Homo sapiens: one gene and its partner. The protein of the gene in region 1 purifies or fractionates together with the protein of each later gene. This does not show direct contact. Each region holds a gene or a part of one and is shown in the gene's direction. Other genes may lie near its edges.

Region 1 (3,751 bases):
TTGAACCCGGGAGGCGGAGGTTGCAGTGAGCCAGATCGAGCCACGGCACTCCAGCCTGGGCGACAGAGTGAGACTCCCATCTCAAAAAGAAAAAAAAAAAGTAAAATAGGTACTGTTACTGAGATTCTACTGTTGAGGAATTTGAGGGTGAGAGAGGGGAAGTTTCAGAAACCAAAGTTACACAGCTGTGAAGTCAAGATTCTAACTCAGTTTTTTTGCTTCGCGGTATAAGCTTTGAATCACCTTGCAGTACTTAAAGCTGCAGCTTCAAGTGAATCATGATAATGCTGTTTAATCCTATCATTACTTTTTCTTGGGGAAACCTCGCGCCACTTCAATTTTTTTCAAAGATGTACCATTTTAACCATTTAAAAGTTCACAATTCAGTAGTGTTAAGGATATGCACATCGTTGTTCCACATTTCTGGAACTCTTTCATCTGGCAGCGCTGAGACTGTAGCCCCCAAATACTGATATCTCCTCCTCCCTCGCCCTCCCCCGGTAACCATCTTTTCTACTTTGTTTCTATGATTTTGACTACTTTCAATACTTTATTTTTTATTTTTTTTGAGATGGAGTTTCACTCTTGTTGCCCAGGCTGGAGTGCAGTGGCACGATCTCAGCTCACTGCAACCTCTGCCTCCCGAGTTCAAACAATTCTCCTGCTTTAATTTCCTGAGTATCTGGGATTACAGTCATGGGCCACCATGCCGGGCTAATTTTGTATTTTTAGTAGAGATGGGTTTCTCCATGTTGGTCAGGCTGGTCTTGAACTCCTGACCTCAGGTGATCACCCCCCATCGGCCTCCCAAAGTGTTGGGATTACAGGCGTGAGCCACCGTGCCTGGCCTTGCCTGTCTTTTTCATCTGAGCCATTCTAGCGGGGTATAGTGGCATCTTGTTAGTTTTAATGTGCATTTCACTGATGACTCATAATGGTGAGCGCTTACATGCTTGTCGGTCTTTGTATGCCTGGATTTGTAAAGTGTCTGTTCAAGACTTTTGCCCATTTAAAAAATTGGATTGTTTGTATTTTTAAGTTCCTTACATATTTATTTATTTATTTATTTTTGAGATGGAGTCTCCTCTGTTGCCCAGGCTTGAGTGCAGTGGCGCGATCTCGGCTCACTGCAAGCTCTGCCTCCCGGGTTCACGCCATTCCCCTGCCTCAGCCTCTGGAGTAGCTGGGACTACAGGCGCCTGCCACCACGCCCAGCTAATTTTTTTTTTTGTTGTATTTTTATTAGATATGGGTTTCACCATGTTAGCCAGGATGGTCTCGATCTCCTGACCTCGTGATCCGCCCGTCTTGGCCTCCCAAAGTGCTGGTATTAACAGGCGTGAGCCACCACGCCCAGCAGTTCCTTACATGTTTTTTTTTTTTCAGATGGAGTCTTGCTCTTGCTCTATTGCCCAGGCTGACGTATTTTTTATACAAGCCGTTTGCCAGATATATATGTGTCGCAAATATTTTTTCCTAATCTATGGCTTAACTTTATTTTTTGGTAGTGCCTTTTAATAAATCAATACTTTTAATTTTTCTTAACCATGCTCTGGCAAGTTTTATTAAAGAAATTTTCGGCTGGGCGCGGTGGCTCACACCTATAATCCCAGCACTTTCGGAGGCCGAGGCGGGTGGATCATGAAGTCAGGAGTTTGAGACTACCCTGGCCAGTATGGTGAAACCCCGTCTCTACTAAAATTACAAAAATTCGCCAGGCGTGGTGGTGTGCACCTGTAGTCCCAGCTACTTGGGAGGCTGAGGCAGAAGAATCGCTTGATCCCGGGAGGCAGAGGTTGCAGTGAGTCGAGATTGCGACACTGCATTCCAGCCTGGGCAACAGAGTGAGACTCTGTTTCAAAAAAAAAAAAGAAATTTTCGCAGGGTTTATTTTTATCTTTTATTTTTTGTTGTTGCCTAAGCAACATCCGCTTTCCTTAATTCTGAAAGCATATCTATAAATAAGTCACCCAAAGGCCAAATAGATGCATTTGTTTTGTCTGGTTGTTAATGTTTTCTTTTTAAAAAAATATTTATGTATTTATTTAATTTTTGAGACAGGATCTTGCTCTGTTGCCTAGGTTGGAGTGCAGTGTCACAGTCGTGGCTCAGTGCAGCCTCGTGTTCAAGTGATCGTCCCACCTCAGCCCCTGAAGTAGCTGGGACTACATGTGCGCACCACCATGACCGGCTTGTTTTTTGTAGAGACAGGGTTTCATGGCATTGCCCTGGCTAGTCTTTAACTTCTGGGCTCAAATGATCTGCTCTCCTTGGCCTCCCAAAGTGCTGGGATTACAGACGTAAGCCACTATGCTGGGCCACCAAGATACTATTTATTTCCCTGAATATGACGTGGACTGTTCCTGTAGGCTGGTCCCTTCACCTCAGGACCCTCTTTGCTGGTATTGTTTGGGGCTTCTGCGCCTGTATATGGGGATGGGACCTGACCCTGCTGATCTGGCCAGCACTGCCAGGGTTTCCTGTTGCCCATCTCTCGGTAAAACATCCCTTATAAACCTTTGCAAGGAAAAAACCTCTGTTTTCTTCCCTCCATCCCATTTTTCCTTAATGTGCTACCCTCGTCTGTATTCATAGGAACTTTATTTAACACTTGAGAACTGAGAGTAATTGACATTTCTTTCTTGGCTGTCCTTCATTCTGTGCACCCAGACCTATTGCTTTTTCTACCACATTCTTTTTCTCTTTTAGAAAATTGAAATGTAAGTCACATCACATCAAATGCCCCATTTTAAAGCGTGCAGTGCAGTGATTTTTAATGTATTCTCTGTTTTGTGCAACTACCATCTATCTAATTCCACACATTCCTTTTCCCTTTTTAGTGCTTGGTGTTTTTTTTTTTTCTTAACTTTCTTCATCACTGTAAGCTTTCCCCACCTGGCTGAATTTCACATGATAAAACCAGGGGAGGTAAAGTGACCAAAGATGATGCCCTTTGCTTCTCTGGCCTTTGCTTTCATTTCATTAATTTTTTTTTTTTTTTTTTTTTTTGAGTCAGAGTCTCGCTCTGTCACCCAGGCTGGAGTCTGGGTGTATATGTATGAACACAGTGGGGTGTGTGGGTGTGTGTGAACATAGTGGTGTGTATGTATGAACACAGTGGGGGTGTGTGTGCGTGAGCACAGTGGTGTGTGTATGTATGAACATAGGGGTGTGTGTGAGCACAGTGGTGCATATGTATGAACATAGGGTGTATGTGTGTGAGCACAAGGGTGTGTGTGTGTGTGTGCGTGCATGCAGAGTGGTAGGGTTCCTGAAGCAGAGGGACACTTGGGGCAAAGAGACCTTGGATTGTGTTCTTCTTGTTGGTAGAATAAGCTTAAATCACTTCATGTATCCCAGTTTCCTCAGCTGTAAATGGGAATTATAATGATAGGTCATCAAACTACCTGCAGACTTTTTTTGTTGTTATTTCGATAAAATATTACACATTTGAAAATGCTCCCAAAACTAACATATTGGACAGATGCGAATTCTTCTTTCCTTTTTTTTGAGATGGAGTCTTGCTCTGTTGTCCAGGCTGGAGTACAGTGGCATGATCTTGGCTCATTGCAGCCTCAGCCTCCCAAGTAGCTGGAACTACAGGCATGTGCCACCACGCCTAGCTAATTTTTATATTTTTAGTAGAGATGGGGTTTCACCATGTTGGCCAGGCTGGTCTTGAACTCCTGACCTCAAGTGATCCGCCTGCCTCAGCCTCCCAAAGTGTTGGGATTACAGGTGTGAGCCACCA
Region 2 (3,751 bases), on another chromosome or scaffold:
GTAGATTTTCTAGGCCTTCTCTGTGCTTCTGTTTTCTTCTCTCCCAGCCAGCTTCCTCTATTAAACCTATTTGGACATGGCTCCTAATGCCTGTCCCAGCTCTTGGATCTGCAAAGCTTGTCTATTCCAGCACCTTTGGCCCATTATGCTTTTATTCCTGAGTCCAAAGTTTGGTCAGGGAGAAAGAACCTGATGAGCCCAGCCCTTCTTTTCCTCAAACTAGGCTACAAGGCTTAAGTGGCTGGTCTGTGTGTGGCTTAAATCATTGTGGGTAGTGCTACAGTTGGGATTCTGTGTTATAAAAATGGTTTCTTGAGCTCTAAGGATAGATTTCCCCCAAAAGGGACCTGGGAAGTGTCTGTCAGATCGCCCCTTTTGTCTCTTTTCATGCATGACTCATATGGGGCAGGTAGCTCACTAATGTGCTTTGGTTGCTGCAGATACAAAGGGAAATACTTTGAAGGACACGGGAGAGCTCTCGAGATCATCCAGTGCTTTCCCTGTATAACAGTTCCTCTTCCTTGTTGTCGTGTTCCAGGGTCAGAGATTGGTGTTTTGCCTTCTGGAGCTACTGTCCAGGCATCTGGAGGAAAAGCAGCTTTCAGAGGGCAAAAGCTCCTCCTCTTACCACACTTGGAACACGGGCACCGAAGGGCCTTTCGTGGAGAGGGTGACTGCAGTGTGGAAGAGCATCTTCAGCCTTGACACCCCTGAGCAGTATCAGGAAGCCTTTCAGAAGCTGCAGAACATCAAGTACCCATCTGCTACAAATAACACACCTGCCAAACAGGTAAGCCATCTGTACCAGCATTTGACATTAATCACTCAGTGGTAAGACTTCCTTAATCCATGTCTATTGTAACGGGGAAACAAGCAGAATACTGGACTGTGTTTCAGAAAAGGCTAAGGCATGGCCACGCCACCTGGAAAGATCCCTTTAGACTAATCAAAGCCCTTTAACTTTAAAGTTAGTATTAGATCAGTATTCCCTTTTTTGTTTTGTTTTTTTTAGTTGTTTGAAGCTGGAGTGCAGTGGCATGATCTTGGCTCACTGCAGCCGCCACCTCCCAGATTCAAGTGATTCTCCCGCCTCAGACTCCTAAGAGCTGTGATTACAGGCGTGCGCCACCACGCCCAGCCACTATTTCCTTTTCTAAAAAAGTAAAATAAAAAGTCTAGAAAATATAGAAAAGCAGAATAATGTAATAACCCATCAACCAGAATTAACAGATGTTCACATTTTGTCATTTTTACTTTGTAGGGTTTTCTGGTTTCATTTTGTATTTTGATTTGAGGACTTTATAAAATAAAAACAGTAGGGCAAAGTTGAAGTCCTTCTTGTTCCTTTCCTCAGCCCTTCACTCCTTCCCTAGCTCGCCACAGGCACCTCCTGTGTCAGTGCCACATGTATTGTTTTGCTGTTTGCTTATTTCAGAGGCCATTGTTTGTAAAATCTATCCATGTTGATAAAAAGAGATCAGTTGATTTATTTTAACTGCTATGTCTGCCTTGTGAATATACCTACTTCTTTTTTTTTTTTTTTTTCCTTTCTGGAGACTGGGTCTCACTGTTACCCAGGCTGGTCTCGAATTCCTCAAGTGATCCTCCCGCCTCAGCCTCCCAAAGTACTGGGATTACAGGCATGAGCCACTGTGCCTGGCGTAGTTCTTTCCCTCATTTCAAAATGAGGGAACATTATGATATTTATGAGGAACAAGGCTTCTCAAATGGTATATACTTTGAAAAACAATTGGACAGTTTCTTTTTTTCTTTTCTTTTTTCCTTTTCTTTTCTTTCTTTTTGAGGCGGAATTTCACTCTTGTTGCTCAGGCTGGAGTACAGTGGCATGATATCTGCTCACTGCAACCTCCGCCTCCCAGGTTCAAGCAATTCTCCTGCCTCAGCCTTCCAAGTAGCTGGGATTACAGGCATGTGCCACCACGCCCAGCTAATATTTTTACTTTTTTTTTTTTTTTAGATGGAGTCTCACTCTGTCACCCGGGCTGGAGTACAGTGGCATGATCTTGGCTCACTGCAATCTCCGCCTCCCAGGTTCAAGCAATTCTCTTGCCTCAGCCTCCCGGGTAGCTGGGATTACAGGCACCTGCCACCATGCCCGGCTAATTTTTTGTATTTTTAGTAGAGACAGGGGTTTCACCATGTTGGCCAGGCTGGTCTCGAACTCCTGACCTCGTGATTTGCCCACTTCGGCCTCCCAAAGTGCTGGGATTATAGGCATGAGCCACTGCAGCCAGCCTATTTTTCAGATTTTTAGTAGAGACAGGGTTTCACCATGTTGGCCAGGCTGGTCTTGAACTTCTGACCTCATGTGATCCACCTGCCTCGGCCTCCCAAAGTGCTGTGATTACAAGTGTGAGCCATCACGCCTGGCCAGGCAGTTTCTTATAAAGTTAAACATGCACATGCCCCATGTCTCAGCAGTTCTGCTACCTAGATATTCCACTAAAACAATGAAATCAGATGGCCACACAAAGACTTGTACACAAATGTTTACAGCAGCTTAGTGCACAGTAGCCAAAAACTAGAAACAACCCAAATGTCCATCAACTGATGAATGGATATGCAAACTGTGTTGTGTCTATGCAGTGAAATACTATACTGTTTAACAATAAAAAGGGCCAGTCTTGGTGGCTCACACCTGTAATCCCAGCACTTTGGGAGGCCAACGCGGGTGGATCGCTTGAGCTCAGGAGTTTGAGACCAGCCTGGGCAACATGGCAAAAACCTGTCTCTAGTAAAAATACAAAAATTAGCCGGGTGTGGTAGCACAAGCCTGTAATCCCAGGTACTAGGGTGGCTAAGGCAGGAGAATCATTCAAATCTGGGAGACGGAGGCTGCAGTGAGCCAAGATGGAACCACTGCACTACAGCCTGGGTAAGAGAATGAGACCCTGTCTCAAAAAAAGAAAGTAAAAAGGAACAAATTACTGCCACACAAATAATATCGGTGTTAGCCGCGCGTGGTGGCGGGCTCCTGTAGTCCCAGCCACTCTGGAGGCTGAGGCAAGAGAATGGTGTGAACCCAGGAGGCCAAGCTTACAGTGAGCCGAGATCGTGCCACTGCACTCCAGCCTGGGCGACAGAGCAAGACTCCATCTCAAAAAAACAAAGAAGAAGAAGAAGAATATCGGTGAATCTCAAAAGCTTTAAAGACACAAAAGACTATATACTCTGTGGTTCCATTTATATGAATTCTAGAAAAGAAAAAATTAAAGTGACAACCAGTTCAGTGGTTGCCAGTGGGGTGGGGCCAGGAGATCGCCTGCAGAGGAGCCGGAGGGCATATCTTCAGTTGATGAAAATGTTCTGTCTTGATTTTGCTGGTAGTGTTGTAACTATATATGTTTCTCAAACTACATACTTAAAATTGAGCACATTTTTCTTAGTTGTACTCCAAGCTTTGTTTTGTTTTGTTTTTGGTGGGTTTTGATTTTTTTTTTTTGAGACAGCGTCTCACTCTGTCACCCAGGCTCGGGTGTAGTGGCTTACTGCAACCTCCGCCTCTCGGGTTCAAGCAATTCTTCCGCCTCAGCCTCCCAAGTAGCTGGGATTACAGGCGTGCACCACCAAGCCCGGCTAATTTTTTTTTTTTTTTTTTTTTTTTTAGAGACGGGCTTTCACCTCGGGTGATCCGCCCGCCTCAGCCTCCCAAAGTGATGGGGTTATAGGTGTGAGCAACTGCACCCAGCCTTTATTTTGTTTTTAATTACAGCTTTTAGTTCCAGAAACT

Evidence for each region. The genes of interacting proteins can lie anywhere in the genome.
Region 2: the proteins of KLC1 (region 1) and GEMIN5 fractionate together in Homo sapiens (co-fractionation; one large-scale study listed by BioGRID). This does not show direct contact.

Annotation. Positions count from the first base shown.
Region 1 is NC_000014.9:103,635,671-103,639,421, forward strand, and holds part of KLC1 (kinesin light chain 1), read left to right. Parts: intron 1-3,751. UniProt on the Homo sapiens protein: Kinesin is a microtubule-associated force-producing protein that may play a role in organelle transport. The light chain may function in coupling of cargo to the heavy chain or in the modulation of its ATPase activity.
Region 2 is NC_000005.10:154,893,131-154,896,881, reverse strand, and holds part of GEMIN5 (gem-associated protein 5), read left to right. Parts: intron 1-538; coding exon 539-790; intron 791-3,751. UniProt on the Homo sapiens protein: The SMN complex catalyzes the assembly of small nuclear ribonucleoproteins (snRNPs), the building blocks of the spliceosome, and thereby plays an important role in the splicing of cellular pre-mRNAs.